Linked DNA regions of Homo sapiens: region 1 is linked to region 2. Evidence: fine-mapped QTL for protein levels in blood plasma. A gene starts in region 2. The other region holds a variant in brackets. All regions are shown on one strand. Distances are from middle to middle.

The links. A credible set is the group of variants that fine-mapping cannot tell apart. PIP is the chance, under the fine-mapping model, that this variant and not a neighbour inherited with it causes the effect. The UK Biobank Pharma Proteomics Project read protein levels with antibody pairs (Olink). The fine-mapping took linkage between variants from a reference panel, not from the people measured, so its PIPs are less certain.
Region 1: its variant is the best candidate, but not a certain one, in a credible set for the plasma level of the GBP2 protein (UK Biobank, PIP 0.57).

What each region holds. Positions count from the first base shown.
Region 1 is chr1:88,996,284-89,008,944 of GRCh38, reverse strand. It overlaps GBP3 (guanylate binding protein 3), which reads left to right. Exons shown (of 11, transcript NM_018284.3): 11 at 1,093-2,265. The coding sequence ends at 1,221. Among named protein-coding and RNA genes, the nearest start is that of RBMXL1, 10 kb to the right of the region's middle. The variant T/C (reference allele first, on the strand shown) is at 3,575.
Region 2 is chr1:89,112,761-89,128,350 of GRCh38, reverse strand. GBP2 (guanylate binding protein 2) reads left to right here and starts at 2,237. Exons shown (of 11, transcript NM_004120.5): 1 at 2,237-2,488; 2 at 6,368-6,574; 3 at 7,081-7,208; 4 at 8,063-8,172; 5 at 10,578-10,774; 6 at 11,117-11,359; 7 at 14,055-14,335. The coding sequence starts at 6,385. It overlaps LOC112268267 (a long non-coding RNA gene), which reads right to left and starts at 10,573. Exons shown (of 2, transcript XR_007066213.1): 1 at 10,309-10,573; 2 at 3,120-9,440. RefSeq lists a silencer at 6,391-6,685.

The DNA.
Region 1 (12,661 bases), 120 kb after region 2:
ATCCAAATGCATCACCTTGTGGTTCGTTTTTCTGTTTTCTCTCTGTTCTTCCTGATCACAAACTTAGTATGGCAGAGCGAACATAAAGCCCAGGGGAAGGATTTTGCTTGCTCACTTGTACTTTCTTGTTTCTGTCTGTCTGACTTGAAATGGCCACTGCCTACATGTGGTCACTAAAAGTTTATTTGCAGGGTGTCACATTCAGTCCCGTTTTAGTGTATCCTTCCACTTACGGCTGTCATATGCTAGGCATCATAAAAATGCCTTATCTATATCTCTTGCTTAATACCATATGAAGCGAGAACTTTATCCCTATTACTTAGGAGAGGAAACAGAGGTTCAGAAAATATTAAATAACTTTTATAGTGTCACACAGCTAGTAAATATCTGACCCATCTTCATCACTTAGTGGAATCCATAGTAATATTTTTTCTATCCCATCTAGTATGACTTTGGCTCTAAGAGAACTTTTATGAGCAGAAGGACTCCCTAACCCTCACACCTGTAGGGCAGTCTACCACTCCTGCCTGTTTTCTGTGCCCTACTCACAGTTTGTGTTGAGTTGGGAGCTATGTGCAGAAATTCTATATGGTAAGTCTGGCACTCGGATTTCCTTGCCTATCTTCTGCTACCCCTGCCAACAGGGAGTAGAGACTTAGATCAAATTTCCTGATCTAAGATTCATATACCTAATCAGATTTTGAGAGTAACTTATCTCTGTATTATGTGTATATAATAATAATATGTGTGTAGGTAGGTGTGTTAAAAAGTCTATAATGCATAGGGAAGATTTGAAGTCAAATATATTGTTAAGATTTCCCACAAAGGTTTTGTATAATTAATAGGGGGAAAAAAGCAAGACCTTCATCAATAGAGCAGAAGGCATACGCTGAAACTCTTTTGGCTATAGAAAACCCAGGAGAAATAATCACACAGCCCAAATGCCCAGAAAAACTATAATTAAAATCAAGGGTAGAGAAAATTTCAAGAAAAAAACTAAGTACTAAATAAATCAATGCATGTGGAAACTAGATAGCTTACAGAGATTTACTTAATGCTACACTTATTTAGCCTCCATTTGTCCCTTTTTAGGAACAGGCCCGAGTACTAAAGGAGAGATGCCAAGGTGAAAGTACCCAACTTCAAAATGAGATACAAAAGCTACAGAAGACCCTGAAAAAAAAAACCAAGAGATATATGTCGCATAAGCTAAAGATCTAAACAACAGAGCTTTTCTGTCATCCTAACCCAAGGCATAACTGAAACAATTTTAGAATTTGGAACAAGTGTCACTATATTTGATAATAATTAGATCTTGCATCATAACACTAAAAGTTTACAAGAACATGCAGTTCAATGATCAAAATCATGTTTTTTCCTTAAAAAGATTGTAAATTGTGCAACAAAGATGCATTTACCTCTGTACCAACAGAGGAGGGATCATGAGTTGCCACCACTCAGAAGTTTATTCTTCCAGACGACCAGTGGATACTGAGGAAAGTCTTAGGTAAAAATCTTGGGACATATTTGGGCACTGGTTTGGCCAAGTGTACAATGGGTCCCAATATCAGAAACAACCATCCTAGCTTCCTAGGGAAGACAGTGTACAGTTCTCCATTATATCAAGGCTACAAGGTCTATGAGCAATAATGTGATTTCTGGACATTGCCCATGGATAATTCTCACTGATGGATCTCAAGCTAAAGCAAACCATCTTATACAGAGATCTAGAATCTTATATTTTCCATAGGAAGGTAAAGAAATCATTAGCAAGAGTAGGAATTGAATCATAAACAAATTGGCTAATGAAGAAATCTTTTCTTTCTTGTTCAATTCATCTAGATTATAACCTTAATGTGACACCTGAGACCTTTAGACAGTTGACCCTGAATTAAATAGTCACATGGTAACAATTATGCACTGTGTAATTTTAGTAATGTATAACATGCAATGATGCACTTTAACTGAAGATAGAGACTATGTTAGAAAATTGAACTAATTTAATTATTTGATTGTTTTAATCCTAAAGCATAAGTTAGTCTTTTCCTGATTCTTAAAGGTCATACTTGAAATCCTGCCAATTTTCCCCAAAGGGAATATGGAATTTTTTTGACTTTCTTTTGAGCAATAAAATAATTGTCTTGCCATTACTTAGTATATGTAGACTTCATCCCAATTGTCAAACATCCTAGGTAAGTGGTTGACATTTCTTACAGCAATTACAGATTATTTTTGAACTAGAAATAAACTAAACTAGAAATAAAATAAGTTTCACTAGTTTTTTTATTTCCATTTTTTTTTTTTTAGTTTTTCACCAAATAATAAGGTTTGAGTCTTTATAGCAGTGGTTGGCTAACTTTTCTGTAAAATACCAGATAGTGATTATTTATGGCTTTGCAGGTCAACTGTCTCAACTACTAAACTCTGCATACAGTACAAATGCAGCCATAGACAATACATAAGTAAATGGGTGGGGCTATGTGCCAATAACACTTAATTTTCAAAACCAGGTGGCACACACAAGCTATAGTTTGCAGACCTTTGTTTATAGAAACATTGGTCAAAGTTTCATTTTATATCTGCCTTATTTTACTTACATTTATAAGAATCATAAGGATTAGATTGTATATGTTAGAATCTTGAAATAATTATGTAGTGTTTCAAAATATTACACGATGAATCCCAAGAGGACCCACAGACCCTCTGAAGGAGGCAGACTGCTCCTGCAGGACCCAGGAAACACTCCAAATATTCTGACTGCCCCAACTGCAGAAGTGGGAAAGGGAGACCCTCCTCTCTGGAACACACACCCCCACTGGAGAAGCTGAAGGTTTGTGTGCAGGAGGAGTTTCCGACTTTACCTGAAGCTGAGTCAAGTTAGAGAGCCGAGCAAAATACAGGGGTAGAGGAAGCAGTTGGAAGGCCCTGGGAGCTCACTGTGTCCCCAGGCAGGCCATTCCTGCCTGGCACCACAGGGATCTATCGGGAGGTCAGCCAGAGGAGCAACAGGTAAAACTCCACAGAAAGAAGAAATTCTCCAACCAAACTTTGTAACAATTTGAATGGGGCGAGAAGCCTCCTGCCAGAACTCGGGGAGGGCACAAATCCAGCATGCAAACTTCACAGGCTGGTGAAGAACTAAAGTCCTTTTCTTTTTGGCTGAGCAGAAAGCCTCAGCCAAATTTTAAGCCCGCCCCTCTTGCCCTCTGCCTGGAAACAGACTCAGAGCTGTTGGCAGGGAGAAGGGCACAGTGGGAGTGAGACCGGCCTTCCAGTTTGCATCGGAGCTGGGTGAGGCCTGTGACTGCCAGCTTCTCCCACTCCCCTGACAACCTGCATGACTCAGGAGAGGCAGCCATAATCCTCCTAGGTACACAACTCCAGTGACCTGGGAATCTCACCCCCATCCCCCACAGCAGCCATAGCAAGATCCAGCCATGGAGAGTCTGAGCTCAGACACTCCTAGCCCCGCCCTGACCTGATGGTCCTTCTCCATCCACCCTGGTAGCTGAAGACAAAGGTCATTTAATCTTGGGAGTTCTAGGACCCTGCCCACCACCAGTCCCTCTCCCAC[T/C]GATACTTTCTGGAAAGTGCCACCTCCTTTCAGGAGGCCAACCAGCACAAAAATAGAGCATTAAACCACCAAAACCAAGGACCCTCATGAAGTCCATTTCACCCTCCACCACCTCCACTGGAACAGGCACTGGTATTGTAGGAGGACAAGCCACCAACAAAACCCCTCAGACACTGAGTTAAAGAAGGAAGGGCTTTATTCAGCCAGGAGCTTTGGTAAGACTCACGTCTCCAACAACCGAGCTCCCTGAGTGAGCAATTCCTGTCCCTTTTAAGGGCTCACAACTCTAAGGGGGTCCACGTGAGAGGGTCGTGATTGATTGAGCAAGCAGGGGGTACATGACTGCGGGCTACATGCACTGGTAATTAGAACGGAACGGAACAGAACAGGACAGGGATTTTCACAGTGCTTTTCTATACAATGTCTGTAATCTGTAGATAGCATAACCAATTAGGTCAGGGGTCAATCTTTAATTACCAGGCCCAGGGTGTGGCGCTGAACTGTCTGCTTGTGGATTTCATTTCTGCCTTTTAATTTTTACTTCTTCTTTCTTTGGAGGCAGAAATTGGGCATAAGACAATATGAGGGGTGTTTTCTTCCCTTAGTATCCATGGCTCAGAGACCCATAGATGGTCCACATCACAGGACTCTGTACAGAAAACCCCCAATACCAGCCCAGAGCTGGGCAGACACACTGGCTGGCTAGACTCAGAAGAGAGACGACAATCACTGCAGTTTGGCTCACAGGAAGCCATACCCATAGGAAAAGGGGGAGAGTACTACATCAGGGGAACACCCCATGGGACAAAAGAATCTGAACAACAGCCTTCAGCCTTAGACCTTCTCTCTGACAGAGCCTACCCAAATGAGAAGGAACCAGAAAACCAACTCTGGTTATATGACAAAACAAGGCCCTTCAACACCCCCCAAAAATCATCCTGGTTCACCAGCAATGGATCCAAACCAAGAAGAAATCCCGATTTATCTGAAAAAGAATTCAGGAGGTTAGTTACTAAGCTAATCAGGGAAGGACCAGAGAAAGGTGAAGCCCAATGCAAGGAAATCCAAAAAAATGATACAAGAAGTGAAGGGATAAATATTCAATGAAATAGACAGCTTAAAGGAAAACAATCCACAATTCAGGAAACTTTGGACACGCTTTTAGAAATGCAAAATGCTTTGGAAAGTCTCAGCAACAGAATTGAACAAGTACAAGAAAGAAATTCAGAGCTCAAAGACAAGGTCTTTGAATTAACCCAATCCAACAAAGACAAAGAAAAAAGAATACGAAAATATGAACAAATCCTCCAAGAAGTCTGGGATCATGTTAAATGACCAAACCTAAGAATAATGGGTGTTCCTGGGGAAGAAGAGAATTCTAAAAGCTTGGAAAACATATTTGGGGGAATAATTGAGGAAAACTTCCCCAACCTAGCTAGAGACCTACACATGCAAATATAAGAAGCACAAAGAATACCTGGGAAATTCATCACAAAAAGATCTTCACCTAGGCACATTGTCATCAGGTTATCCAAAGTTAAGATGAAGGAAAAAAATCTTAAGAGCTGTGAGACAGAAGCACCAGGTAACCTATAAAGGAAAACATATCAGACTAACCTAGCAGATTTCTCAGCAGAAACCGTACAAGCCAGAAGGCAATGCGGCCCTATCTTTAGCCTCTTCAAACAAAACAATTATCAGCCAAGAATTCTGTTTCCAGCAAAACTAAGCATCAAACGTAAAGGAAAGAAACAGTCATTTTCAGACAAAATTGCTGAGAGAATTCACCATTACCAAGCCACCACTATAAGAACTGCTAAAAGGAGGTCTAAATCTTGAAACGAAGCCTGGAAACACACCAAAACAGAACCTCTTTAAAGCATAAATCATACAGGACCTACAAAACAAAAATACAAGGTAAAAAGCAAAAGCAAAAAACAAAAACAAAAAAATAACAAAGTACACAGGCAACAAAGAGTACGATGAACGCAAGGATTACCTCACATTTCAATACTAACATTGAATGTAAATCACCTAAATGCTCCACTTAAAAGATACAGAACTGCAGAACAGATAAGAACTCACCAATCAACTATCCACTGTCTTCAGGAGACTCACCGAACACATAAGGACTCACATAAAGTTAAAGTAAATGGGTGGAAAAAGCCATTTCATGCAAATGGACACCAAAAGCGACCAGAGGTAACTATTCTTATATCAGACAAAACAAACTTTAAAGCAACAGTGGTTAAAAGAGACAAAGAGGGACATTATATAATGATAAAAGGCTTGTCCAACAGGAAAATATCACAATCCTAAACATATATGCACCTAACACTGGAGCTCCCAAATTTATAAAATAATTACTAATAGACCTAAGAAATGAGATAGACTGCAATACAATAATGCTGGAGGACTTCAATACTCCACTGACAACACTAGACAGGTCATTAAGACAGAAAATCAACAAATAAACAATGGATTAACTATACTTTGGAACAAATGGACTTAACAGATACATACAGAAAATTTCTTCCAACAACCTCACAATACACATTCTATTCAACCGTGCATGGAACTTTCTCCAAAATGGACCACATGATAGGCCATAAAATGAGCCTCAATAAATTTAAGAAAATTAAAATTATATCAAACACACTATCGGACCACAGTGGAATAAAACTGGAAATCAACTCCAAAGGGAATCTTCAAAACCATGCAAATACATGGAAATTAAATAACCTGCTCCTGAATGAGCATTGGGTCAAAAACAAAATCAAGATGGAAATTAAAAAATTCTTCAAACTGAATGACAATAATGACACAACCTATCAAAACCTCTGGGATACAGCAAAGGCAGTGCTAAGAAGAAAGTTCATAGCCCTAAACACCTACATCAAAAAGTCTGAAAGTGCACAAACAGACAATCTAAGTTCACACCTCAAAGAACTAGAGAAACAAGAACAAACCAAACCCAAACCCAAACCCACCAGAAGAAAGGAAATAACCAAGATCAGAGAAATAAATGAAATTGAAAAAAACTACAAAAGATAAATGAAACAAAAAGCTGGTTCTTTGAAAAGAAAAATAACATTGATAGACCATTAGCAAGATTAACTAAGAAAAGAAGAGAGAAAATCCAAATAACTTCACTAACAAACAAAACAGGAGGTATTAAACCTGACACCACTGAAATACAAAAGATCATTCAAGGCTACTATAAACTCAGCAAAATTAAGTTACTTCCTCCTTAGTTTGGTAGCATCAATGTCCTGACCCAAATCCATATCATCTGACTTCTGATTTAGTGCTTTTCTTTAATATCTCCAGGAATCAAATAAAGCTCACTGTCCAAGGAGGCATGTTGCTTTCACCAGTGCTCCTCAATCCTGATATGCATTAAAATCACCTTATTAAGTATAAAGATTCCCTGGCCCCTACCCTTCCTCTGACTTTCTGACATAGTAGGTCTGAGAGTGTCATTGAGTGCAACAATGACAAGAAAATGGCAATGCAATGCTATGATTTTCTTGCATTGTTCCTGGATCTACAACCAGGAGTACTGGCCATTGGGAGCCTGAATAAGTTGGCTCTGGAATCCTTTTGGAATGACCCTGTAGCCTTCTCACTATCTGTATGACAAGGTGCTTCAGGTTTCCCTTATTCATTTCCTGTTTGCTGAAGCTACCATAGCTTAAGGCCTAAAATTGCTGGCCTGTATGGTATGTGTCTCTGTGCCAAAAATATTTTCAGTTTACAGAAGTATTTCTTCTCTTGTTTAAGTAATAAGTTGCTAGTTTTCCTTCTCTGAGTTTAGTGAAAGGAAATACAAGCTCCTCTGATCCACAGGGAAGGAGCACATCAAACACTGAGATCCTGACAAAAAAAAAGAAAAAAAAAGGCAGAAATCCCTCAGTGAAACCTGTCCAATCAGTCTTACAAATGACCAGGCTCAAGAATCAACAAAGCCAAATAAAGTGTTTCTACCAAAAAAATTTTAAAAAACATCAAGATTTAAGAAATACTTTTAATCTTTGATGCATTAAATAGTAAAACTAAAAATCAACATTTCAACATTCTGACAACTCTATGTGTATAACTTCTGCAACTCAAATGGACTAATTTCTGAAAAAAGCACAAACAAGCAACTAAAACTCACCCAAGTTAAAATAGATAACCTGAACTGTCATATAATTTCTAAAGAAACTGAAATGGAGTAAAAAAGTTAAGAATCTGAAAAACAAATCTCCACATCCAGATAGTTCCTCTTGACTGGCAAACCTTACTAAGCATTTTTTAAATAATTCCAATTCTTAATAATTTCTTTCAGAAAATATAAAAGGGAACATTTCCCAATTCATTCTATGAGCACAGCATCATCCTGATAACAAAATTAAACAAATACAGTACAAAAGTAAACTACAGACCATTATCCCTCATAAACATAGATGCAAAAATCCTCTACAAACTATTAACAAATCAAATCCAGCAATATAGAAAAATAATGCACACCAATCAAGTGGGATTCATCCTGTGGATGTAAAGCAGTTCAAAAATCAACTAGTGTAATTCACCACACTAAAAGTCTAAAGAAGGAAAAAAAATCACATGGTTATATAAATAGATAAAGAAAAAGCTTGATAAAATATGACAGTCATTCATATGAAAACTCAGCAAATAGGAGTGGAAATGAACTTCTTCAAACCGATCAAGGGCATCTGCAAAAACTCTACAGCTAACATCATACTTGATGAAACACTGAATCTTTTGCCCCTCAGATCTAGGAACAACACAAGAATGTTCACTCTCACCACTCCCATTCAACATTACATCGGAATTGTTAGTACAATGGAAGTGTTAGTGCAATTTGGGAAGAAAAGGATATAAAAGGCATATAGATCAGAAAGCATCAAATAAAACTGTCCTTATTTGCAGGCAACATTATTGCCTATGTAGAAAATCCCAGGTAATCTACAATAAAACTCTTAGAACTAATAAATGAATTTAATACAGTCAAAAGATACAAGGTCAGCACACAAAAATCAACCTTCAACAGTTTCTATATATAAGCAAAGAAAAACTGGAAACCAAAATTTTAAAAATGATACTATTTACAATAGCTACAAAAAAAGGAAACAAATAGATATAAATCTAACAAAGCATGAACAGGATCTGTATATTAAAACTACTCTAAGACCAAGAGACTGTCAGGATGGATCACAATTCCTGTATCTCCTTAGATTCCATCACCCTGTAGTTCTTATAATGCTCCTTCTACTCACAATAGAAAAGAAGGCTCAAGACCTTCTTTCTAGAGTTAGCCTTAACAAAGACTAACTTTAATGTTCTCCCATGTTTTATTATATAGATTTCCCCCCCAGTCTAACTCTAAAACAGTCCTTTTAGGAAGTTAGGTAAGACTACATAGAAAACAGCAATTGCTTAGGCTAGAGGAATTTATTCATTCAAGATAGTTGTTATCTACAAGATTCTCCGCCAAGGACTAGGAAACATGGTTGTGTTTCTCTCTTAAAGAGCTTAAAGTCTATGCTGAATACATATATTAAACAAATGAAAGAAAATTAAATACCCAGGAAATTGAGGGGAGAGCACATCTATGATTTAGGAAGGAGTTAATCTAATCCCCCTATAACAAGATAGTTCACACAGCTCTTTAGTATGTCTTAGCCCTATTTCACCTTATCAGTTAATTAGAGAAAAGAAAGAAAGAGAGAAAGAAAAGAAGGAAAGGAAGGAAGGAAGGAAGGAACGAAGGAAGGAAGGGAGGGAAGGAGGGAGGGAGGGAGGAAAGAAAGAGAGAAATCCAGTAGGGCATGGTAGTGTGTGCCTATAGTCCCAGGTACTCGAGAAGCTAAGGAGGGAGGATTGCATAAGGCCAGGAAGTCGAGACCAGCCTGGGCAACAGAGCAAGACCTGCCTCTTAAGAAAAACAAAAACAAAACAAAAAACAAAACAAAAAAAATCCTTGGAAATCTCTAAGGAAGCTGAGCATGGTGGCATACGCATGTAATCTCAGCACTTTGGAAGGCTGAGGCAGGAGGACTGCTTGAGCCCAGGAGTTCGAGGCTGCCATGAGCTATGATCCCACCACTGCACTCCAGCCTAGGCAACACAGCAATGAGACCCTGTCTCTAAAAAATAAAAAACAAATTTAAACAAATCAAAATTGGGAGAAGGGAGACGGGAAAAGAAAGAACCTATTACTTTGACCCAAACACAACTTCAAAATAATAATAATAATAATAATAATAATAGATATGAGCCCTGGCTATGTTGCCCAGGCTGATCTTGAACTCCTGGGCTCAAGCGATCCTCCCACTTCGGCTTCCCAAAGTGCTGGGATTACAGTTATGAGCCACTGCACCTGGCCCCAAACACAACTTTAATAGAGCAACATGCAGTCAGCATCCCTACCCAGTTGAATGAACTGGGTAAGTGAAAGAAATTAAGAAAGCAATGAGCACCATCTAGTGGCCAGAATTTTTATTTTTCCTCACAATATTTAATCACTACCTTACATTACTGATGAGTTTGTTCAAACTTACTGCCTGTCTCCCCTCCCTACTAGAAAATAAGGTCCAGTGGGCAGGGTCTTTGTCTTTTTTGTTCCTCACAGCATCAGTAGAGTCTAGAAAGGTTGCCAGGCACATATACATATAATAAATAATTTTTTTAAATGAATGAACATCTTATATACACTTTATTATCCCAACTCCATTCCTAACACTTCTCCCTGAAAGTTTACAATTATTAAACATCATATTGATTATTTCACGAGTTTGATAATTATTTATATTCTTGTGCTATTTATAATAGAATCTTCTCCCTCTACTCCCCACAAAGGATTTCATCAGTATCCCTTCTTTAAAGACCTAGAAAAGCTGGTGTTGATTAATATTCCTAACATTGCTCTAGGGATCTAACTGGCATGAAGCATCTAGCACTATCTTTGGGCCAGCATTGTGAACACTGCTGCAATAAACATGGGGGTGAAGCCATCCCTTTGATATACTAATTTCCTTTCTTGTGGGTATTTACCCACTAGTGGGATTCCTGGATGATATGGTAGCTCTGTTTTTAGTTTTTGTTGTTTTGTGTTTTTTTTTTTTTTTTTTTTTTCAGGAACCTCCAAGCTATTCTCCATAGTAGTTGTACTAATTTACATTCCTACCAACAGTGTACGAGGTTTCCCTTTTCTCCACACCCTTGCCAGCATTTGTTATTGCCTGTCTTTTGAATGTAAGCCATTTTAACTGGGGTGAGATGATATCTCATTGTAGTTTTTATGTGTAATTTGCATATTTTGAACCAACCTTGCATCCCAGAAATAAAGCCTATTGGTTATGGTGGATTAGCTTTTTGGTGTTGCTGGATTTGATTTGTTAGTATTTTGCTAAGGACTTTTGTGTCTGTAGTCATCAGGGATGTTGGCCTTTAGTTTTCTCTTTTTTTTTTTTTTGAGACGGAGTCCTGCTCTGTCGCCCAGGCTGGAGTGCAGTGCCTGGATCTCGGCTGACTGAAAGCTCCGCCTTCCGGGTTCAGGCCATTCTCCTACCTCAGCCTCCGAGTAGCTGGGACTACAGGCGCCCGCCACCACGCCCGACTAATTTTTTTGTATTTTTAGTGGACACGGGGTTTCACCGTGTTAGCCAGGATGGTCTCGATCTCCTGACTTCGTGATCCGCCCGCCTCGGCCTCCCAGAGTGCTGGGATTACAGGCGTGGGTCACTGCGCCCGGCTGAAGTTTTGTTTTTTTGCTGTGTCTCTGCCAGGTTTCGATATCAGACTGATGCTGACCCTCAGGGGTTAGTAAGGAGTCCCTCCTCCTTGATTTTTCTGGAATAATTTCAGTAGGATTATTGACAGCTCTTCTTTATACATCTGGTAGAATTCGGCTGTAAATCCATCTGGTCCACAGGTTTTTCTTGTTGGTAGGTTTTTTAGTACTGATTCAACTTGGATCCCATTATTGGTGTGTTCAGGATTTCAATTTCTTCCTAGTTCATTCTTGAGAGGTTATATGTTTCTGGGAATTTACCCATTTCTTCCAGGTTTTCTAGTTTGTGTGCACAGAGGAGTTCATAATAGTGTCTGGGTATTTTTTTTTTCTGTAAGGTCAATGGTAATGTCATATTTGTCATTTCTGATTGTGTTTATTTGGATCTTCTTTTTCCTTATTAATCTAATAGTCTTTAAATCTTATTCTTCCAAAGAAACAACTTTTGGTTTCATTGATCTTTTGTATGGATTTTGCATCTCGATTTCATTCAGTCTGCTCAATTTTGGTCATTTCTTTTCTTTTGCTAGTTCTGGAGTTGATTTGCTCGTTTTTCTAGTTCCTGTAGGTGTGATGTTAGGTTGTTCATTTGAGATCTTTCTAACTTCTTGATGTAGGCGTTTAGCACTATAAACTTTCTTCTTACCCCTGCTTTAACTGTGTTCCAGAGATTCTGATATGTTGTATCTTTGTTTTCATTAGTTTGAAAGACTTTTTTGATTTCTGCCTTAATTTCATTGTTTACCCAAACATCACCCAGGAGCAGGCTGTTTAATTTCCATGTAATTTATAGTTTTAAGAGATCTTCTGGGTATTGATTTCTATTTTTATTGTGCTGTAGTACTAGAGTGTGGCTGGTATTATTCCAGTTTTTTGCAATTTGTTGAGAATTGCGTTATGGTTGAGCATGTGGTCAACCTTAGAGTATGTGCCATGTGCAGATGAGAGGAATGTATATTCTGCGCCAAACTGATTTGTAAAGTCAAAATTCATTTTCCCTTTTTAAAAATTGTTCAAAGACTGTAAAGACTATCTGACTGATTCAAATCACAAATTCTAACAGTTAAGTTGCTATCAATACAGCCAAACGTGTATGTGAATAGACAGACAACAGATAAATGAGACACACATTTACCCTGATCAGCCTTTCCATGGGTTAAGTGTACAATTTCTATTATGGTTTTTGAAATAGTTGAACTAATGTTTGTATAGCTATTATTATCTGGCTAGGAAACATTAGTTTAATATTCTAATACACACACATAAATATTGCATTTAAAATACTTACG
Region 2 (15,590 bases):
TTGGCGGCCCAGCACTCGGAGCAGCCGGCCAGCCCTGTTGGCCCTGGGCAATGAGGGACTTAGCACCCGGGCCAGTGGCTGCGGAGAGTGTACTGGGTCCCCCAGCAGTGCCAGCCCACCGGCGCTGCGCTCTATTTCTCACCGAGCCTTAGCTGCGTTCCCGCAGGGCAGGGCTCCGGACCTGCAGCCCGCCATGCCTGAGCCTCCCACCCACTCCATGGGCTCCTGTGCGGCCCCAGCCTCCCCGACAAGCACCACCCCCTGCTCCATGGCGCCCAGTCCCATGGACCACCCAAGGGCTGAGGAATGCGAGCGCACGGCAGGGGACTGGCAGGTAGCTCCACCTGCAGCCCCTGTGCGGGATCCACTAGGTGAAGCCAGTTGGGCTTCTGAGTCTAGTGGGGACCTGGAGAGTCTTTATGTCTAGCTCAGGGATTGTAAATACACCAATCAGCACCCTGTGTTTAGCTCAAGGTTTGTGAGTGCACCAATGGACACTGTGTATCTAGCTGCTCTGGTGGGGCCTTGGAGAACCTTTATGTCTAGCTCAGGGATTGTAAACACACCAATCGGCACTCTGTATCTAGCTCAGGGATTGTAAATACACCAATCGGCACTCTGTATGTAGCTCAAGGTTTGTAAACACACCAATCAGCACCCTGTGTTTAGCTCAAGGTTTGTGAATGCACCAATCGACACTGTGTATCTAGCTGCTCTGGTGGGGCCTTGGAGAACCTGTGTGTCCAAACTCTGTATCTAACTAATGTGATGGGGAGGTGGAGAACCTTTGTATCAAGCTCAGGGATTGTAAACGCACCAATCAGTGCCCTGACAAAACAGGCCACTGGGCTCTACCAATCAGCAGGATGTGGGTGGGGCTAGATAAGAGAATAAAAGCAGGCTGCTGGAGCCAGCATTGGCAACCCGCTCGGGTCCCTTTCCGCAGTGTGGGTGCTTTGTTCTTTTGCTCTTTGCAATAAATCTTGCTACTGCTCACTCTGGGTCCACGCTGCTTTTATGAGCTGTAACACTCACCACGAAGATCTGCAGTTTCACTCCTGAGCCCAGCCAGACCACGAGCCCACTGGGAGGAACAAACAACTCCAGATGCGCGGCCTTAAGAGCTGTAACACTCACCGCGAAGGTCTGCAGCTTCACTCCTGAGCCAGCAATACTACCAACCCACCAAAAGGAAGAAACTCCAAACACATCCAAACATCAGAAGGGACAGAATCCAGACGCGCCACCTTAAGAGCTGTAACACTCACCGCTAGGGTCCGCGGCTTCATTCTTGAAGTCAGTGAGACCGAGAACCCACCAATTCCGGACACAATAATATGGGTTTTAGAGGAAGACTTGGGTTCAAACCTTACTTGGTAGCTTTGTAATATTAACAAGTTGTTAAATTTCTTGGTAACATTGTGGTGAAATTACTGTAGAATGCAAGGGGGAAGGGTGCAGTGATTCAAACCTGTAATCCCAGCACTTTGGGAGGACAAGGCAGAACAATCGCCTGAGACCAGGAGTTGGAGACCAGCCTCACAACATAGTAAGACTTCATATCTCACACATACGCGCGCACACACACACACACACACACGCTGGTATGATGCCTCATTTGTAGTCCCACCTATTCAGAAGGCTGAGGCAAAAGGATAACTTAAGCCCAGAAGTTTGAGGTTAGAGTGAACTATGATTGTCATTGCACTCCAGCTTGGACAACAGAGCAAGAACTTGTCTCTAAAAAATAAACAAATACAAAATAAGAATACAATGGTATGATTTATATAAAGAAGTTATCACTGTGTCTGTATCAAGTGTGCCATAAATGAGAGTTACCTTCATCATTATTTATTATTTATTAAATGTTAAGTGTCAGGACCTGGGTTAGGTGCTGATAATTCAAAAGTATATAAGACATAGATATTCCCTCAGGGCACTTAACAGTGCTCAAGCTAATATTCAAGGTAATTGGACCTAAGAAAATATTATATGAGGCTTTCTCATCCACATGCTTCTCAAACTGGCCCACAAACATGAGATAAATAGCACTATTTTAAATGACCCAATGAAGGGGTTTTTAAAACTTAATATAGCAAGCAGTCTCTAAGATCTTTTCCAATGATAAAGTGGAAAGTTCCTGGTTGAGAAATCATGACAAACCCTCTTACCAGCACAGCTGTCAACAATTCCTTTTATGGTGAATGAGTCACTGCTTTAGTTGATACTTTGTTTCATATTAGTGCATTTCTTTGCAGAGGTTACCTCTTTTTCTTGTCTCTCGTCAGGTCTCTGACATTGACAGAGCCTGGACGTTGGAGGAAGCCCCAGGACGTTGGAGGGGTAAAGTAAAAGTCCACAGTTACCGTGAGAGAAAAAAGAGGGAGAAAGCAGTGCAGCCAAACTCGGAAGAAAAGAGAGGAGGAAAAGGACTCGACTTTCACATTGGAACAACCTTCTTTCCAGTGCTAAAGGATCTCTGATCTGGGTAAGACTGGGGCAGGGGTGGGAAAATATTTACCAGGGTTCATCAGTTTTATCTAAATTGACCATTCCCACAACAGGCCGCAGCTGAGCCTGCTGTGGGACACAAGTCCACATACTATCCTGGCCCTATCAAGTGGCTGCAGGTTCCTTAGTGCTCTCTGCTCCTGCTGTGAACTAGTCTCCAGCATAGAGAGATGGGAATGTTTCTAAATTGTTATTTCTTTCTTGACACTATCTTAAATTAACTTTATCATTATTAGTATCTGCTTAATAAAGTTAGGGCTCCATCACATTCATTATTGCCACTTGTAGAGCTCTAGGTAAATGAAGGTAGGCAACTTGGGATCTGCAAAGAGAGGGAACACGTTATTATAATTAGGGAGCTTATACAGTCTTTGTGCAGCTACTTTTCTGAGTCAGTCATTGATTGATTCCCATTTTAAGGTGGTTTACATCATGCTATAAAATGAAACAGAAGTCTTGCCAGAAGTGTCTGTGAGCCATTGTTGTAAGAGAAAATGGGTCCTGACCACAGAAAAATAGTTTTTTTGCCATTGTCCCCTGAAGGGATGGGAAACAGATAATTAGATATAAGCCTTCATCAGAGCAAGTCAGAAGTAATCGACTCCATATTATAAACAAAGCACTCTTTATTATAGAAGAAGGAAAGCTGTAATGCTTACAGTCTATGATTGTTTGTTAAAGAAGTTATAAATGTTATATCATGATCATTTTAAGTTACAGGGATTGAGACATTCAAGGCAAAAACACAAATTAAGATGTTACTACAGGAAGGCTTCTTGCTCATTTTAAATTTACAAAATTATCAAATTATCAAGGCCTGGTTAAACAGGATATGCCTACAATTGTGTATATACTGCTCTCCATGAAGCAGAAGTCAGAAAAAAACAAGCCCTGGTTCATCAGAGAATGTTTCCTGATGCTGGCTTCATTACCTGAAATAACTGAAAGCAATATGCAAACTGATATACATGCAGGTGATAAAGAATCAGTCTTAAAACACAGAGAGGTTAAAATCTGGTAACATAATTGAGTAAAAAATCAGCAGATTTTCTACATGTCAGATTTGAGATACCAAGCTTGAGTGAATAACAGGTGAATGCTGATTCACAGCAAATATTAAGAACAAGTGATGTCCTGTGGTAGCTCAAAGGGCTTCCTGCATAGTGATAGGAAGAAGCCACTGGGTAACCTGAGTCCCACAGTCTGACCAGACCCTGTCCGTAGAGGGGCTTGGAAGAAATCAGGACCAAGGCTGGGTTAGAATGGTATCTATGTTTCAAAGTATGGAGATATGTATGACACAAGATTCCCCAGGTAAAAGTTCCTATTACTGTGTACATGAGCTTAGTGAGCTCAGCTTTGCTCAGTCCAAATATCTAAACGTGAATGTGAAAAGTTTCCAAAGAAAATTTTGTAATTAAGTCAGAAAATGTGACATATCTAGAAAAAAAATCCATTTTCTGAACAGTGAGATACAAGATGATCTGGTGGGAATTCAACCTGATACATCCTTCTGGAGAGGAACTTGGCAATATCCAACAAAATAAAATGCTCTTACCTTTTGACCTGGCAATCTCACTTATAGGATGCTATCCTAAAGTTACTCCTATAGCAATATAAAAATAAACACTCACAAGGTTAGCAGAGGTTTTCATTGCAGCATTGTTTGTAATTGCTAAATATTAGAAACAATCTAAAAGTCTATACATAAAAGAACGGTTGAATAAACTGTGCTATGTCCACATAAATGGAGTAGATGCCTGTCAAAAGAATTGAGAAATCTTCCTACGAACTGATAGGGAAAGACTCCCATATTTCTAAGTGATGTGATCTTTTTGTTGGAAAATGTGAATAAGAAAATATACATGTATATGCTCATTAATGAAAAAAAGTCCAAGAAAGGTAAACTAGAAACTAACAAGATTGGATATCTATGGAGGATAAGTGGGCATGAAGTGGAAAGAATAGAAAGACAGATGGAATGGGAATGCAGTGCCAAGATGAAGGGAAAGTGACACTTCTCTGACTACAGCTTGTTGTAAAGCTCTGACTTTCAGAACTCTGATATTTCGCATACTCAAAAATAAATGCATACTTAAAATCAACCAACAAATGAACCTAACTATATTACAAATAAATAATTTAACTACACCAAAGAGAATGGAGAAGGAAATAGTAGTCTAAGCAACTTTGGAATACAGTGTTTTGACTGTATGTGTAAGACCAAAGACAAGAACTTTTAACTAATAGTGCACTCTAGTTAGCAAATTTATCTTTCAAACACTTATGAGTTAGTAACTTTAAAACAAATTATATGTACTAGAATTGAGCAAATAACTAAATTTATTATGTATAATGACACACTCAGAGAAAAGATTTTAAAAACAAGGGGAAAACATGAATAAGTTTTGTTTTGTTGAATTGGAATTAGAAATATCAGAAGAAACTTAAGCTTATATATAGAAACAGATAGACGAGAAATAAATGTAGATGTGTGTATTCATGTGCTGGTATATAAACATAGATTTCTTAACTTTCCACCTGAGAGGGCCTAGAAGTAATGACTACACCTAGTGTGATAATCTTGTTGTCTATCTACCATTATCCAATGAAAGCAACCAGAGCCCTTGGGAGAAATGGTCGATTCTAAGGCTGAAGCAGAAAAAATATTAGATAAGCCTGGCATATATTGTAATGTCAGAAGGAAAGACGCACTGAAAATATGATGGAAGCACGTCCATAGTACCTGGGCTACAGCTTGAAGGAGCTCTCAGTGAACTAATCTGGGACGAGTTGAGCAATGAGATAAATAGTGATAGTAAAGTGTTACCCATATGATAAATCTACACTGATCTACTATAGATCTACACTGATACAACTAAATGATTAAATAAGTAAATAAAATAAATAGAGGAGAAAGGGCAGTTCTTGCTCACATTAGAACTCTAATAAATGTAGAAGGAATGAAAATAGAAAATTACTTTTAGTCAAACATCACAGTAAGTTATAAGCAAGAATTATCAACAGATGCTAAAAATAGTGACTGAAAAAATTATGGAAGTATGATGAATCTTTATTTGCATAGTCTTCAAACTGTCTCTTCAAATGGTACTTTTTAGTGACAAAATGGTACATAACACTTTGTGGTAGAGAAACCTGGCAGAGAACACCTTAACCAAGTGATCAAAGTTAAGGTCACAGCACCAGAAAAAGTCATGTCAACATCATGAATCCCTTAATACAAGACACTGAAAATGGCAGAACATCACTTTGGTGACATTTGCAAAAAAAAATGTATAACTTCAATCTAATAATAAGGAAACATCAAAAAACCCAAATTGAGGGATATTCTACAAAATCATAGCCAGTCAACTTCTAAAATGTCAAAGACATGAAAGACAAGGAAAGAATAAGGAACTATCAAAGATGCAAGGAAAATACAGAAACATAATGACTAAATGCAATGAGGAATCCTGGATTGGGTCATGGAGCAGAAGGACATTAGTGGGAAACTGGTGAAATGTGAATAAGGAGTGTAAATTAGTTATCACTCTACCAATGTTAAAATCCTTGTTCTATGGTTATGGAAAATTTTAACTTTAGGGGAAATGATATATGGGAACTTTCCATACCCATTGTACATCTTTTCTGTAAGTGTATTTCAAAATAAAGTTATTTTTAAAGAAAGCCAGTGACCCAATTTGTAAGACAGCCTTAAAGAGAAACCAGGCTTTAAAAAACGTATATGAAAAAATGTTCAAGCATAGAAAACAAAAATTTAACCCATATTGTAAAGTTCAGCATAGCTAACTACCTAAAAACTGCTTTCCATTTCATCTTTTTCCTTGCACACAAGGGAACAACACCCTGGACATGGCTCCAGAGATCAACTTGCCGGGCCCAATGAGCCTCATTGATAACACTAAAGGGCAGCTGGTGGTGAATCCAGAAGCTCTGAAGATCCTATCTGCAATTACGCAGCCTGTGGTGGTGGTGGCGATTGTGGGCCTCTATCGCACAGGCAAATCCTACCTGATGAACAAGCTGGCTGGGAAGAAAAACGGTGAGTGACACCAGCAAAGCTCTAAGCCCCTTCTGTCCGTACACACGGCGAACATCCAGCTTAGGGATGTGAGCATAGAAAGAGATGAGAATGAATGTTGAAAGCTAACTTTCAGTCCATTAATGGGCTCTTTACATTGACTTTGGAGGATTACAGTCAACTGACTCTTCCCACTTTACTTTTATTTTATACTAAGGGTATAAATGTGCCTTTCTGGAAGGAACACAATGTTAATAAAGAAAATTAACTTCTATAATAATGACTTATAAAACATTTATTAAAATGTTCATGTAGTGACAGCAAGCTTTCAATGAACTTTAAGAAAAATATGAATGTTTCAGTGTGTATTAAATATCTAATTTTCCTGTTTCCAGGATTGTAATTAAGATTTATGCCAGTTGTATTTTCTTTTATCTCTTTTAACTTCAATTATGTTAACTTTTATCTCAATTTCCAGAAACACCTACTAAGTAATTTCTTTTCCCTTTTATCCTCTCCTTCTACAGGCTTCTCTCTAGGCTCCACAGTGAAGTCTCACACCAAGGGAATCTGGATGTGGTGTGTGCCTCATCCCAAGAAGCCAGAACACACCCTAGTTCTGCTCGACACTGAGGGCCTGGGAGATATAGAGAAGGTAAAAAAAATAAGTATTTTAAAAATTTCACTTAGGTAGATTAAAATCTACATAAACCAGGTCAGATCGATAACCATCTTTGCACAATCACTCCTACTCCTTGATTTAGGGCTCTAGTTAATTATATTAATATATTATTTCTTAAAATTTGTGTGGTATAAGCATTCAGAGTACACAATAAGTTCAATTGATTAATTATGGGTAAACCTATGAAATAATGGCTAATGATGTTTTCAGTTATTTCTCTTTCATATTATAGTAAAATGTTTTGGTGAGGCTGCTGAAGGTGCTTATAAACTTCAGTAGACGTTTTACAAACATGTCTGACTTTTTACAGTGGGATCCCACAAAGGTAGTAAAAATGTTCACATCCACACCAGCACCAGTAGAAAGAGAAGCAAAGTGTAAAATCTAATGATAACATCTTTGCTCATTAAGGATAATATATTACTACTGTTATAAATCTTAGACATAGAAAGCTTTTATTAAAGGAGCTTATTTTAACTACTGTGTAAAAAATATCTTACTATGATGTGCCATGGAAATGGAATAGGGTCATAAACTAAGTTTAGGGTACCAGTTTGAATTTTAGTAGCTGATCAAAATAGCTTCTCCTACCAAGTGCTCATGTGTTTCCTGCTGACATATATTTATATATAACACCTTAAATTATACATCATAAATATTATAAATTTGTTCTACAGGTAGAAAAAAATACTGCATAAGGAAGTGAGTTACCTAAGTTTTCAGAACTAATGAGAGACAGAGTTGGAGTTCAGTCAGTCTTCAGCTATCTGAATTGATTGTACATTCTGCTAGTCATTCTTCTTTGTGGCTTCTACAATGACTTACAGGGTGACAATGAGAATGACTCCTGGATCTTTGCCTTGGCCATCCTCCTGAGCAGCACCTTCGTGTACAATAGCATGGGAACCATCAACCAGCAGGCCATGGACCAACTTCAGTATCCTTTTTTGTGGTCCAGAACAGCAGTAAACCTAGAAAATAACAGCTTCATTTTTTCACCAAGTACAGAGGCAGACAGACAGGTACTGAAGAATTCATAAGTCCTCTCTTTAATAAATCTCATTATGCTGAACATCTCATTCTATCTCAATCTCCATCTGAACTTCAAGTCTTCCCAGTTACATGTCTCGTTAGATACTCAGCCACCCAAGACTCTGTATATCCTCTATCTGACTTAATCTCCTATGCCTGTCCAAACCTTCAATGTCCTCTAGAACTCATGTTCTCACTTCTGCAACTCTCTATATTCTTATCATCTGCTCTAAGTGTTGCCTTCTAAATGATACCTAGCTATACACTATAGATACTATTTCTCCTACAGACCTCTCCAGTGGTCTTATGTGATGACTATTTTTAATCCCATACCTTGCATATCATAAGTGTAAGAGATGAGTTAGGTATCCTCCTTGCTCCATATTAGAGTTCTGGACACTTTCTCATTCCTTTACCATTAAAAAGAGAATCTTCTTTAATATATATGCCCTCAGACTACACCACTATTTTTGTTGCAATTATCTAGCAACGTTCCAATAAATACATCCTTCATTCATTAAAGATTTTAGTTCCTAGTGTCTTTTTAGAGACTAGCAACCAATAGACAATTATTTAACACCCTGGTGTCTCAGTTCCATCACCTTATTGGAACTCTCCACCCTTATTGTCATTCTCCACTCTCACACATTACTTAACCTAGTTCATTATCAATGACCTCACCATTTCCATTAGCTTAGTTTCAAGCATTATACTGAATTAGATTTCATCAAGATCACCCCCATATTCCTATATGTAATGCACAGTTCTCACCTCATTTGATCTTCCAATCTTCCATAAGCCTTTTATTTCTCTAGGAGCATTACATAAATTTGATCCCTTCCACCTTTCTGAAATGCCTGTTTCACTTGGAATTGGTTCCTATTAGAATACCACATTTCCTAATTTTCCACCTTCCTTATTGGTAGACTTTTTCAGATTACTCTATCCTCTTTCTCCTTTTAGCCTCTAAATATTATAACACTTAAGTTCTTGTGCCTCTTTTCTTTTTCTGCTTTCAGTCCCCAGATGATCACATCCAGCTTCAAGGCTTTCAGTAGCACCAATATGTTTATCACCATCAAATCTGTATTCCCAAGCATGAGCAAATTCAAACTTTTGTATCCAGCTTCTGGTGCAACATCTCCATTCAGATGTGTAAGAGACATCTTGAGCCTAAAGTGTACAGAACAAAACTTAATTTTCCTGTCCAAAACAACTCCTTCCCAGTCTTTCTAATCACAATAAATTCCCACATCATTCATAGAAGTGCTCAGATCAAAAACTTAGGAATCATCTTGGATGATTCCATTCCTTATGTTTTGGAAATTATTAATCATCAAACTCCTTCAGCTCCACTATCAAAGTTATTTCTCTAGACTAGCCAATTCTCACTACTTGCTCCATTGCCTCTCATCTTGGTTATCTTTTCAACTACCTAATTGCTTTTTGTATTAGTTTTGTTTGTTTGTTTGTTTTGGCATACACACTTGACTCACAGATGCAATGCCAGCCAGTATGATTTAAAAAACAAAAAACGATACTATATCCTCTCTTCACTTAATACCCACCAATGACTTCCCATTAACTTTCTATTAAATTTCAAACTTCTTACTTTGGTTTACAGAGCTTGCATATCCCAACCTCTATTTATTTTAAGGCTTCTGCCCTACCACACTGGATTTCTTGATATATGTTGTACACACTCAGTAATTTCCTATCTAAGGGCCTTGAAGGGTCTGTGATCTCTGTCTGCAATGTTCCTCCATTGGATTTGTACATGACTGGTTTCTTCAATTCATTCAGATCACTGCTCAACTACAATGTCAGAGATAATTTACCTGGAAAACTACATGAACCAGCACCACATGCAGATACACACAATTATTCTCTGCTTTCCTTATTGGTAGATTTGGGAGACACCAGAGTATTAGATGAATGTCTATTGGTTGCTAGTTTCTAAAAATACATTAGGAGCTAGTTGCCCAGTTCGTTTTCCTTCAAGACAATTGTTATCAATACCTGATAATTTATTTTTGTTTACCTGTTCATTGTTTGTCTCCATCATTAGAATGTAAGCTCTATAGTGGTAGCATTGTCTCATTCATTACAGCGTTCTTAGTCCCTAGGGCAGTGCTTGGTTCATAGTAGGTGCTCAATAAATGTTTGTGAGTGAATGAATTCTGTAAATAAATGTTTGTGAATGAATGAATGAGCTAATAAAAAGAAACCAAATTATTTTAGGTAAGCATTAGGATAAAATGTAGTATAAAGAGTGGCATTTTCTGTAGTTTTCTTAATTTAGCATCTCAGCTATGTGACAGAGCTGACAGATCGAATCAAGGCAAACTCCTCACCTGGTAACAATTCTGTAGACGACTCAGCTGACTTTGTGAGCTTTTTTCCAGCATTTGTGTGGACTCTCAGAGATTTCACCCTGGAACTGGAAGTAGATGGAGAACCCATCACTGCTGATGACTACTTGGAGCTTTCGCTAAAGCTAAGAAAAGGTTACTGGGTCTGATGCTTGGTTGGGTAATAAATAGAGAGCAAATAATATCAAAATAACCATTTCTGTGCAGTGCTAAAAATTATAATTTTTAACTGTATTTTTCTGACTGTTCTGCTAGAGGAAATGGAAACATTGCTTGACTATATCAGTTGGAACCAATTTTAAATTGCATTACCTACCTCTTCTTGGAGACTTTCCTTTCTCTACCCCTTTAATTTTTTATTTCTTCTTCCTAATAAATTTCCTCCTTACATGGGCTTTGTGAAAATTATAAAATTGAAAGATCATATTTGAAGTAATTAATTTGAAGTTTTACTACTTCTAATTTTCATTCCTGTAGGTACTGATAAGAAAAGTAAAAGCTTTAATGATCCTCGGTTGTGCATCCGAAAGTTCTTCCCCAAGAGGAAGTGCTTCGTCTTCGATTGGCCCGCTCCTAAGAAGTACCTTGCTCACCTAGAGCAGCTAAAGGAGGAAGAGCTGAACCCTGATTTCATAGAACAAGTTGCAGAATTTTGTTCCTACATCCTCAGCCATTCCAATGTCAAGACTCTTTCAGGTGGCATTCCAGTCAATGGGCCTCGTGAGTCACTCTCTCTACCCACTTCCTACCTGGACTTTCTCCTTCTGCCCATTGTAGAGGATAAAATGGAAAGCATAAGGGTCACTTCTGACAAATGCATAGTCTATTGATGGCAAGGAAAATACAACATGAAAATCATATTATAAATTTTACATGAAAACTAAAGCTATAGTATCATCTCATATTCCTTGCAAGGAGAATAAAAAAAGAAAAGAACTAGAATTGAATTCTATTATGGTAAACTTCTCCACCAACTTCTCAGCTCCCTCTTTATCAAATAAACATCCAGGATATATATACTGAGCAACAAAGAAAAAAGCAAATACTATATGTAAGTGAGACTTTGCCACTAACTAACTGCAGTACAATTCTCTTGTTCAGCAATTCTAAAATATTTAGGGAATGCCTATAATGTAATGTACCAACCACTGAGTATAATGATGGATAAAAGAAATGTGACTTTTATCCTCATTCCAGCATAATAGGAGCAAAAGATACTTCTGTAAAAAGTAAAAAAAAAAAAAAGTATAATGATAAATAGTGGTTAACACAATGCATAAAAATAATAGGCTGCTATGAAAGAGTAAAGGGAGAGGCAGGGAGATATAATTTAGAGTGTGAGAGAATGCTTGTCTGTGAAAGTCACCTGTAAGATGAGAACTTAAAAATGATTGAGTTGGCTGGGCACGGTGGCTAATGCCTATAATCCCAGAACTTTGGGGGGCTGAGGTGGGTGAATCACTTTGAGCTCAGGAGTTTGAGACCAGCCTGGGCAACATGGGGAAACCCTTCCTCTACTAAAAACACAAAAATTAATCAGGCATGGTGGCTAACACCTGTAATCCCAGCTACTCAGCTGGCTGAGTCTGAAGGATCACTTGAGCCTGGGAGGCAGAGGTTGCAGTGAGCGGAGACTGCACCACCGCACTCCAGCCTGGGAGACAGAGTGAGACCCTGTCTCCAATATATATATATATTAAATAAATGGTTAAGAGCTAACCAAAGCATATAGAGGAATAGCTTTATAGCAAATAATGTAATGTGGAAATGCATAGGGCAGGATAGAACTTTGCAACTTCAAGAAAATAGAACACAGGAGGCTAATGCCTGTAATCCCAGCATTTTGGGAGGCCAAGGTGGGAGAATTCCTTGAGCCCAGGAGTTTAAGTTTAAGACCAGCCTGGGAAAAGTAGCAAGACCTCATCATTATGAAAAAATTAAAAATCAGCCAAGTGCAGTGGTGCTTGCCCAGAGTCCTAGCTACTCAGGAGGCTGAGGCAGGAGGACCCAGCATGAGCACAGGAGTTCAAGGCTATGGTGAGCTATGATCATGCCCTGCACTTCAGCTTGGGTGACAGACCAGAATTCCATCTCAATTTTTTAAACGAAAATAGAAGAAAGACAGGCGATTGGAACAAGAGAAGACTGAATAAGAGTGGTGTCATAATTGGAGGGGTATAAAGGGGTCAGGTCTTGAAAGGACTGGCAGAGGACTTTGAGGAGATTAGAGTTTGTCTAAGCTCTAGAGAAGATCTTGAAGAATTTTTGGCAGTGAGGTAAGGTTATCTAATTTATGTTTATACATATCTTTCTGAATATTTTGTAGATAATTTGTTGGAGTAGTGAAAGGGAGGGAATGAGAGGATGGATGCTATTTGCAGTGGTTGAGCCATAAATGGGCATTGGGTTAGTCTCAGATTATGACAGTGAAAATGGTGAAAATGGACAAGATCCGAACATACTTTGGATATTAAATCTAAAAGGCCTGTTGATAGAGGGAATATGGATTTATGAAGGGAATAAGAAGGAAATGCCAAGCCTGTCTCCAGCGTTTCGAGTTTAGCAATTGCTTGAATGGCTGTGTTATTTAATGAGATAGTAGCATCAAGAGGAGAAATAGTTTTTCAGAGTGGATGAAGTTTTGATATTTAGATTATTTAATATTGAGATTCTTCTGATTTATGCAGTAAGGAATATAAGATAGGCATTAAAAATAAGGTGCAAAACTTATTTTTAATCCAAAGCTTAAAAGAAATGTCAAAGCAGGAAACAAAATACACCAGCCATCCATACAGATGGTACTTAAAACCGCAGAGAGATGAGAAGGTCCAGGATTGAGTCAAAAAGAATCATCTTTTGTTGTGTGATCAACCACTCCAGTTTGCCTAAGATGAGGTTTTCCTGGCATGTGAGACTTTCAGTGCTACACCCAGCAAAGCCCTGGCAAACTCGATGAGTTGATTATCCTATCTGTAGTTCTGATGAGAGAATATCTAAGAAGACATATTTACCTAAGCCAGACACCAGACTAGTGACTAGTGGTCTGCACCACTAAAATTAATAAAAATAAAAAGGCTAAGTTTTCTCATTGACTTTTTTCATAAATTAGTAGTGAAGAGAGAAAGGGAATAGAGGGAGAGGTGAGAGAAAAGAAAGGTAAGAAAACACATTGACCTAGTATCTCAGCCCCAAAATATCCTAACCTATTCATTTCAATATCTTCCTTTTGGGTGAAGGAAATAGGAAAGAGCCACTTCAATTTCCTCTGTGATTAGAGGTTAACAAATTATTCCATTACTATTCTTTATCCAAAACTTATTTAAAAGTATTATTTGTGACACTCACTTGAAAAGCACACAAAATATTCTGTCCCACCAACTGATAGTCACATTTTTTTAAAAATTCCCTTTTGCAGGTCTAGAGAGCCTGGTGCTGACCTACGTCAATGCCATCAGCAGTGGGGATCTACCCTGCATGGAGAACGCAGTCCTGGCCTTGGCCCAGATAGAGAACTCAGCCGCAGTGGAAAAGGCTATTGCCCACTATGAACAGCAGATGGGCCAGAAGGTGCAGCTGCCCACGGAAACCCTCCAGGAGCTGCTGGACCTGCACAGGGACAGTGAGAGAGAGGCCATTGAAGTCTTCATGAAGAACTCTTTCAAGGATGTGGACCAAATGTTCCAGAGGAAATTAGGGGTATATTTGGTGTTCTACGTCATGAGAGGCAGAAAAATATGGGCCCTTCATGGGAAAATAATTCTTTCTAGACCCCAAAATAGTTACACTCAGTTATGTGTACATATTTGAAATAATCATTAAAAGACTAGAATGTGCATAGCCTTAGACCTTTAAAAAAAGACACCTAATTTTTTACTAAAATTTGCTTTTGTTAGTTTTTCCTCTCTGGGTCCCATATTTTAAGAAAGTAAGTAGATGGTACAACTGCATTGTTAAAGACTATTTTAACTTATTTTGTCCTTTTAAATTAAAAAATACATTGTTTTTATGTTCCCTGGTAATTATCAGTGGGGACTAAATTATTTTTAAATAACCCTAATAATTTTTTTAAATGTGAGCCAATGGTAAAATATTCAGAAGGCCAAGAAAGAGAAATTAATTATATAAATTTTATTAGAGAATGTTTTTAATGTCTGCCTCATTCCAAGTGAACAAAGTATTTTTGCATGCAGAATGACCACTTGACAAATGAAAGTCCTTTCCCTAGCTAGGAAGGCAGGATCTTATAAATGATACGTTGCTACAGTCAGAGGTTCTGGTGAAGCTAGATAGCCGATGTCAGCAATTGTCACCCTTCCAACCTAAGGAGGAAAGAGAAAGCTTCATAGTTAAGTTATCTTGAGTGATTTAATGTAGATAAATGTGCTGTTCTATGAGACTTTCCAAATACTGAAAATACCTATGGCACAATCTTCATTACTTTCATTAGCCCTATGCTGAGAAAATACACAAAAATATTCTTATGTTAAAGAATGTACTAAATAATCATGTACTCCTTACTGAGCACTTCTAAAAAGTCCCCGGGCTTAATACTTTACATCACCTCATATAACCCTGCAGAGAAATCTGTGAGATAGGTATTGTTCCTCTGCTGCACAGACAAGGAATCCTCAGTTCACAAAGACTGAGTGTCACAAGCCACAGTGTAGTGTATCCGGGAACTCCAGGCAGGCTGCCTGACTCCAGTGTTTGTGCTCAGAACTATTCCTGAAATGAGAGACTTGGAAAGATAAAAGTTTCGTATGAAATAGTGTATGTGCTTTGAGAATCATTCTCTGAAACAGGAAAACTGGGAGAAAGGAGCTTTAGGAAATCACAAACAGAGAAGTAGATAAATTTCTGCAATAAGCACAACTTAGGGATATTCTAGGATCTAACAGCAATGTGAGGAGCATGGCCCTATTTAGAGGGCCACAATTTCTGAAGGAGAAGC